2 separate regions of the Homo sapiens genome follow, and region 1 is linked to region 2. The links come from fine-mapping of genetic effects on gene expression. A gene starts in region 2. The other region holds a variant in brackets. All regions are shown on one strand. Distances are between the middles of the regions.

What was found. PIP is the estimated chance that this variant, and not a neighbour inherited with it, causes the effect.
Region 1: its variant is the best candidate, but not a certain one, in a credible set for the expression of COL6A6 in lung (TOPMed, PIP 0.82).

Annotation. Positions count from the first base shown.
Region 1 is chr3:130,592,231-130,596,630 of GRCh38, reverse strand. It overlaps COL6A6 (collagen type VI alpha 6 chain), which reads right to left. Exons shown (of 37, transcript NM_001102608.3): 14 at 4,019-4,090; 15 at 3,909-3,935; 16 at 3,526-3,570; 17 at 3,379-3,432; 18 at 2,288-2,350. Among named protein-coding and RNA genes, the nearest start is that of COL6A6, 77 kb to the right of the region's middle. The variant C/T (reference allele first, on the strand shown) is at 2,256.
Region 2 is chr3:130,514,978-130,519,377 of GRCh38, reverse strand. COL6A6 (collagen type VI alpha 6 chain) reads right to left here and starts at 2,201. Exons shown (of 37, transcript NM_001102608.3): 1 at 1,981-2,201.

The DNA of each region.
Region 1 (4,400 bases), 77 kb before region 2:
AAATCCTATCTGAATAAACTTAGGGTTTCAAAAATTAGCATCATTTACATGCTTTCCTAAGAATAAACTGATCATGTGTGTTCTATTTATTTATCCCCAATTTTTCCTGAAATAGTAATGCACTGAAGCCACATGTAAAAAAACAGAGTTGTTTTACAGTTGGAAGTCATAGAGCATTTCTTTTAAAATAGAAAGCTCTTTACATTATTCAGACTCTTTAAAATATGTTACACAATCACACGATCTTTAGCAGACAATTTAGGAGAAATTCTGATCAAAATCAGTGGAGGTTATATAGCAATGCCCCAAATGAATTTTTGGTCATCATATATGGATAACTGAAACGTCTTTGTATTTGAACTAATATTTCTAAGTTGTGCTTATATGTGGATAGTTCTTTGGTTCTAAATTAGATTCTTTGAAGTTGAAAATTCTCAGGACACCATTATCAGAAGATGTCACTTAGTCAACAATGTTTTCCTCATGCGCAAATTCCTCTGTTTTTAAATACAGTTGCCTAACATTTACATGTTCATATATATTGCATCAAATTCCTTCTCTGATCAACCCATTGTATACAAGAGGTTATATTAAAGAAAACAAAAATCCTCATGAGATTCCCAGGTGTCCCACATCCTTATCAGCACTTGGTATTGCTTTTTATAAATTGTAACCATTCTGATGAGTGTGTAATACCGTTCTCATACATTGCTAGTGGGAGTATAAATAAATACAAACTTTTGAAAACCATTTGACTGTAAAGACAATCTGAGTATGGCCATACACATTATAATCCAGAAATTCTACTCTTAAAATATAGACCCAATATAAATATGTAAAAAAGTGCATCAAAAGACATATATAAGAATATTCATAGCAGCACTACTTATAAAAGCAAAAACTGGGAGCAACCCACCTATCATTAGTATAACAAATAAATCATGGTATATTCACACAATGAAATACTATGCAATGCAGCCACGAAATTGAATGAACTATTGTTATACACAACATTGATTCATCTTACAAGTATAAAGCAAAAGAAGCCAGAAAAAAAGAGCAGACACTTATATGGTTCCATTTATATCAAGTTCTAGAACACATAAAACTAATTAATAGTGACAGGATAGTGATTACCTTGGGGGAAGGTGAGTAGTGGCTGCAGTGGGCATGAGGGGGCTTCTGAGATGCTGGTAATGTTCTATTTCTTTACCTGGTGGTGACTACACAGGTGTATTCACATTCATTAAGCTGTGTATTTATAACTCAGGGACTTTTCTGATGTATGTTACAGTTCAATAAACATTTTAAAACAAAGCTAAATCTTAATTCATTAAGGTTTTGGAGACTTACTTAAGTGTGGGTATGGTGATGAAAATCCTATAGTACTGATGTTCTATCGGACTTGGCATATTCCCTATATATTGGTATCTTTTTTTTTTTCTTTAACATGGGTCCTGCCTACTCAGCTGGGTTGTGCTCCTGCAAGGGCAGTGCCTTTATGTCATAAGTTTTGCCTAATATAATTCTACTTGGCCTGGGTTACAGGAAATGAGACTGATATTCTTGAGAAAAATTCTTGGAGAACTGATAGTGGTTTGGCTGTGTCTCCTCCCATATCTCATCTTGAATTGTAATAATCCCACATATCAACAGTGGGGCCAGGTGGAAATAATTGAATCATGGGGGTGGTTTCCCCCATACTGTTCTTGTGGTAGTGAGTAAGTCTCATGGGATCTGATGGTTTTATAAATGGAAGTTCCCCTGCACAAGCTCTCTTGCCTGCTGCCATATAAGACGTCCTTTTGCTCTTTCTTCATGATTGTGAGGGCACCTCAGCCATGTGGAACTATGAGTCAGTTAAACCTCTTTCCTCTATAAATTACCCAGACTCAGGTATGTCTTTATTAGCAATGTGAGAACAGACTAACACAAGAACAGAAAAAAAAGACATGGCTTTCTTTCTGTCATTGTGTTTGTATTTTGAGGTGCTTGGAAGATAATGAAGTGGACCAGAATTTCTTCATTGTTTTGAAGCACAAAAACAATTCTGAGTATGTATTTACAAAATTGCATTTGCAAAAGACATGTAAGGGCTTTTTACTGCTCATACTCATTCAGTATATGAAGAGGATCTAGCACAGGTACCTGAATTTAAAATGTTACAATCATGCCTGTGGTGTTTTAAACTCAGGGTTACTATTGTAGTACCTTGAAATCGAGACTCCCTATCAGAAGTACGGATGGGAATCAAG[C/T]CCTAACTCCAGTTTGCAGCCCGTGCACTTACGGGATCCCCTCGCAGGCCCTTTGCTCCACGGTCACCAGGAGTCCCTCTCTTCCCTGGGCTTCCCTAAAGTTAATACAAATCAGAAGAAAAACAAGACAAGAAGTTTTAATAAAATTAATAAAAACAGAGCTTTTCTTCTCCCTGGTGTGAATAATTAAATATTTTTCTACAAAGGCTATTTTTAAGCTGGAAAGATGAACAACCGAAAAAATTAGTTTCAAGCACCATATAAATAATTTAATAGTGAACTCAATTATTTGCCACAGTGGTGAACTCTGTGTTCCAGACACACTTGTCATCTTGTTTTTTACAAATATTCTATGAACCAGGTATTCCTTATTATCTTTCTTTTATAAGGCAACTGAGATTCAGAAAGAATATGCACTTTGCCCAAGATGGTTGTTTCTGACTCAATTGTTCACACTCTAAAGACAAAGTAGAGGATGAAAATATGGCTGCTGTTGGTATTTATTCTAGGTGGGCATGAGGGACATTCACTCTTCAATGTGCTGCCTGGCACCACTGACCCTTGTCAACACCCCACTTCTATTCTTACTATGGTAGTTGCTTGTCATTGATGGCCCCAGTTCTTCACCTCTCCCTATTCCTGTGTCCTTTGCCATGTAACTCTACAATGACTTCCAACTGTGGTGGGCAAGATTCCCTTCCTCTGAGTTTGGCAATATGCATTGATTTGGCCAACAGAAAGAGATGCAAGTGTTGAGAGAGTTCTGACCCTAGGTCTGAAGAAGACCTGAGAGTTCTAGTATGTTTCCACTTGCTTTCTTGTGCTTCTGCCATGGGCATAAAAAGGTCATGGCTAGCATGGTTAGGCTAGCTCCTGGTCCCAGGAGGGTAAGTGACAGATGGAGTAAAGCCCCCGGCCACCTTACAGACATGAGCCATGTCCAGCCTCAATCGGCTGAACCCCTCAGAAACATAAGAAATAAATGTTCATCGTTGTATGTGATTGAGGTTTTATGACTGTCACAAAACAGTTTTGTAGCAATAGCTGACTGAGTATTCTACTCTGTTAATCACACCCTTAATCCCCAGTACAATTTTTATGTTCTTCCTTTTCAAATCCCTACCTGAGATCCCTCATCTCCCTTTTCTCCTTTTCTTCCAGGAAGACCATTATCACCCTAAAAAACAAGAAGGGAAAGCTATTAATAGAATTCTCGTTTTCATAATGGTAAATAGCTCAGAAGGGTCTCTATGGTACAAGAAGGCTCTACCTGTTCTCCGTTTAATCCGTCAATTCCATTTTCCCCAACTTCTCCCTGAAAAGATAGATATGATTAGAACAGAGTACATCACGTGCATGTGTAAAGAAGTCAGATGCCAAACAAAAACTCTATTTTTGTGTTTCACATACAGCCTCCTTGTGAGGCTGGGCCTGGGTTATTAATATTAAAGGTTACTCAGTAATAGAAACTATCAACAAATAATATGTATTGCCTATAATGAAAGAGAAGAAGAAACAAAATGAAATGGCTGGCAATAAAAAAGGAAAGTCAATGACAACTTTATTTGTATAATTTACTGATAAATAATCTCAAAAATAAAAATATTTCTAGATAACATATGGGTAGGTAAATGGATGTGCCTGGTAACATACCTCCTGTCCATTTAGTCCTCTGTTTCCCTGAAAATAAAAGGACAGTTATAGTTAGTGTAGGAAAATGTAATTAATATTGAGAAAACTCCACACTCTTATGCAATCCTTACCTTAGGACCTTTGGTGCCATAGCATCCCTTAGTACCTTGCTCTCCCACTGGTCCAGGGGCTCCTCTTTCTCCCTGAGAAAGGGCACATATCCAAATGAGCTTTTTCTATTGTAATCTGAGATCTGTCTTGAAAACTTGACAAGTTTTTTGTTACCAAAAAAAGTGTGAATGCTCATGGTTCACAATCCAGAGTTCTTGCTTATAAAAACTAAGAGTAGAAATAAATCAGAGATACCCTGATGATAGACAGCCCTTTGCTTTGGATCCCACTTGCATACTGCCTGTGTGAGACTTCTCTCTCACCAAGTGGTCACCAAGTTACGTCCTTCCAACCTTCTTAACATATCTAGTCATACTGTCCTAAGCACAAATTAGGACCTGT
Region 2 (4,400 bases):
TATATTTGCAGGGGGTCTAGCTCACAAACCCATATTTTTGAGGAATTCCAGGGTCAGCGGATATTTACTGACAGAGAAGTTCTTTTTAGTCATTTTTAAGACCATTGTATTAGTGGGACTTTATAGTGTACTAAGTATAGAGATTATTAAATAAGGCACCAATTTTTATTCATAATTTTTACAACCTGATCTTCATTTGGTGACTTAATTAGATGCTCTTGATACTGTCTATACAAATAAATAAATATTTTCTGCAAAATATTCAAAATACTGAAACTTTCTGAAATTCAGACTATCTGAAGGGAATGGAAAAAATGAAAATTGCAAGTATTTATATTCAACAATAGTATTTCCGGAGAATTGGTTCACAAAAAATTTAGCAAAATTAAATTTTTTAAATTACTAAAATATAAAAGCCAAAGATGATTCTCCAATGAATGCTTAACCTAACATCTTTCATGAACATTATAAAATTTGATTTCACATGGCACAACATCCAAAACACACCTTCTTTTGAGGCACGGTATTTTTTTTCTCCTTCTTTTTCTCTCCTCTGCACTTCTAATATTTTGGAATAAAATGAGGGAGAAATTGCTGTAATCCCAGCACTTTGGGAGGCTGAGGCGGGCGGATCACCTAAGGTCAGGAGTTCGAGACCAACCTGACCAAAATGGAGAAACCCCGTCTCTACTAAAAATACAAAATTAGCCGGGCATGGTGGCTCATGCCTGTAATCCCAGCTACTCGCGAGGCTGAGGCAGGAGAATCGCTTGAACCCGGGAGGCGGAGGTTGCGATGAGCTGAGATGGCGCATTGCACTCCAGCCCCGGCAACAAGAGAGAAACTCCGTCTCAAAAAAAAGGAGAAATTAATTGACAACCTCTTTTATAAAGACAAGAACTATTAAGGCTGTGTATTTTAAAGAACATTATTTAGAAGTTTCAGGATTTTTATGTAAGTGACTTCCTCTATGAAGACACTGAACAATAAATTTAACATTGAACATTTTATATTAAAAATACTACTCATTAAATAGATTAGTTTAGAAAAAGTAACATGACTGCTGAATTCTGTAACTATAGAATTCTTAACAGAAAACTGCTGTTATCCTTCCTGCCACAAGTGTTAGGATTTTTACTGTCTCAGATATTCCTAATCACCGTCACCACCCCTCTCTCCTATCACCCCCACACCCATCCACTGGCAAAAGGTCCTCTTTAAATATATCCATAGAGTAGACTTTTAACAAGAGAATGAGAAATCCTTGTCACAAAAGGACAAAAAAGAAAAGAAAATCACTTCCTAGTTTTAACATTTTTTTTCCTCTTCCAGCCTGCCTCCTCTCCTCTTCAAAATTACTTGCATGGTTGATACTGAGCCAGGTAATTGGGGTTCCGCTCAGAGTAGAATGTTTCTGGGAATTGAGAAAAGGGTGCATTTTCTCTGCTTTCCTTCCTCCCCTCAGACAGCAGTAAAAGTCCAACCCTCTTTAATAAATTTGTGTGAAGTGCAAGAACAAAAGTACAGACTGGGAATGTACAGGCTTGGGAGTGACTTTTCCTGACTCACCCTGATTAACTCCATTCATTTGTTTCCGAGAGTGGTCCACTGTACATGCCACTCGCCAGGCCCTGTGCTGTGAGGACACAGTGTTGGGTGACGCACCTCTCAGGAGGCGCCCTGGTGCGCGGTGGGAGACGCGGAGATGGGAGCAGAGAATGACAAGAGTGTGCTGTAGGTTCTTCAACAGTCGGATGCGAAAAATTAAAAGAAAGACGAGGTGAGGGCAGTTACTCTTGTTTGGAGGAGGAGAAAAGCCAAAGGAGGAGTTTTTGAGCTTCTGAAATTCACTTATTTCCCTCCACCGCAGTCTTTCTCATGCAGCCTCCTCTATTCTGGCCGGTCCCTCCCATCCAACTACTGATCACTTGTAAACCTAGTTTTGGCTCTTGCTGTCCCAGCGTTGGCTCCTGGACTTACCTTGGGGAAACTTCCATGCAGCCCCCAGCCCTGCACTTCGAAAGCCCGGGGCGGATTTCCTCTGGACGCGCACTGCGCGGGCAGGGCGCACCGCGGGGAGCGCAGAGTTTGGTGCCGCCTGCGGCGCGCGGGGAGACGGTGGAGACCTCGGAACCGTGGAACGGACAGGCAGCGGCGTGGGCAGCCTCTTGACTCCGGTGTCCCGCAGGCAAGCGGGTGGCAGCTCCCACGCCCCTCGCCGACATATAAACGCTTCTCCCCGCCCCGGGCCCGACCCTTCCCCGCCCCGGCGGCCCCGGGCCCAGCGCACGTCCCCCAGGAGGGGGGCGCAGCCTTAGGGAGGTGACGGAAGCGGGACTGGAGACATTATGAAGGCTGTTACTGCTCCACCGGCTTCTCCCCTCTTGAAACTCCTACCCTAAGGTCCCGACCGTGGGAGAAAAGAAAGAGGGGAAGTTGGGGCTTTCATGGTACGCGCCTTCTCTGTACCCCAAAGATAGGCAGGGCGTGCAGATCCGAGGCGCACTGAAGGCAGTAGCTCTGCTCCTACCGTTGGAACTGTTGTTCTTTGGCGGCTTTGCCTGTATTCTGGGGTCTTCTGGCAGAAGGCAGGATCTAGCAAGGGAGCCAGAGAGAGTCTTTGGGTTGTAGAAACTCCTCCCTTTTCCGTGGGAACGAAGACCGTGAGATTAAGGTCCAGAGCCACCACCTCATCCCACCCTCAACGCCCCCTACCTCCCCAGTTTCCCTACTCTCTGGTCCGAATTCAGGAGTCCCAAGGAGAATATCCTTGACTCTTTGTCTACTGACCTTTTTCTCTTCTCGCTATCTGTCCATTCACTCATCTATCTATTTTTTGTTGTTGTTGATTCCACAAATATTTGAGCACCTACTATGCACTACTATCAGATGCTTGGGGTAAAAAAAAAACAGCAAAGTCGACACCTTAGCTCACAGTTTGGTTAGGGAGATAGACAAGGAAACAAAAAGCAGTGTGGCAATTGCTGAATGGGGAAATGATGCCATAGGAACCCAGAAGAGGGGATCCCAACTCAACCTTGGAAGGCCAAAAGAAGCTTCTCTGAGGTAATTAAGTCCAAACTGAAATCCAAAGATGGAGCTAGACAGAAAAGCATGGAAAAGAGGGTCTCAGGCAAATGGAAGAGCAGCAGGGAAGAGAGAGGGAGCACTGACTTCTCCAGAGTAGCCAAGTTTGTGTGATTTTTAAAATTTGATATTTGTTGTCATCCTAAGGTAAGAAAATTTTAAAGACAGGTAAACTTGTAGGTGGTGGAACTGGATCTGAATGCAAGCAGACTAACCATGGAGTGTGCATTTACCAGCTACTCCGTATGTAGTATGATGTGTCAACTTGGCAAATGACAAGTTAAAAAACAGATTATTCACCAAGGAGTGGGGATTGCTCTGGAGTCTGGGGCATGACTCAAGTCTCTACTGGACCACTCATCAACTGCAAATTTGGCCAGGTCCTTAACCACAGCTCTTTGTCAATGGAATGTAAATAGTAAAGATGCTTTCCAGTGTCCCTCGTTGAGTGTCCTGGATCATGAGGCTTCATGTTCTGGTCCAGAGACTTGGTGGAACAGCACCAGGACAGGTGTCTTCAATATGGTGATTCCTCCATGGACTCCTTGGCTTTGCACAAGGAAAGCTGGGAGAACACTGGAACAACAACAACAACAACAAAAGAATGAACATTAGAACGTCTCAAATTATTATTGCTTTTATCTAAAACAAGTAATTCAAATTTTCACATTCTTTTTAAAAATGCACTTAACACAAGTATCCTTTTCTCATTCCAGGGTCACTACTGAAGAGGCAGATGTGAATTCTGGGTGGCAGGGTTCCTAGCAATTTGCCAGTCCCCCACCCAAAACTACTTTTGAAAGTGTATATTTTAAAATAGCCAGAAGAGAAGATTTGAAAGTCCCTACCACAAAGAAATGATAAAATGCTTGAGGTGATAGATATACTAAATACCCTGACTTGATCATTATACATTCTATGCATGAATTAAAATATCATAAGTGCCCCATAAACACACACAAATATTATCTGTCAACTAAAAAAATTTTAAGTGTGCCATACATGCAAGCAAGGCTTATTCTTTGATAGCCCTATAGGAAATCTAGTCTGACAGAAAGGCTTCTGGAAGTCAAGAGCTTGTGACCCATGGCCCCGCCAGGACAAATAATCATGTCAGTCCAATGGGAAGGTTTGGCAGCACTGCCTTAATAACCAGCTGAATCCTTTTGACATATTGTTCTGAGACATCTAAAAACACTCTATCTGATGCCCTGGACCTTCTGATGTCCAAACCAGTTTTCACAACTGGATCATACTTGGATAAGCACCCCAAGAACTAGGCTTCCTTTTACCCAGCCTAAAGCAAAAAGACA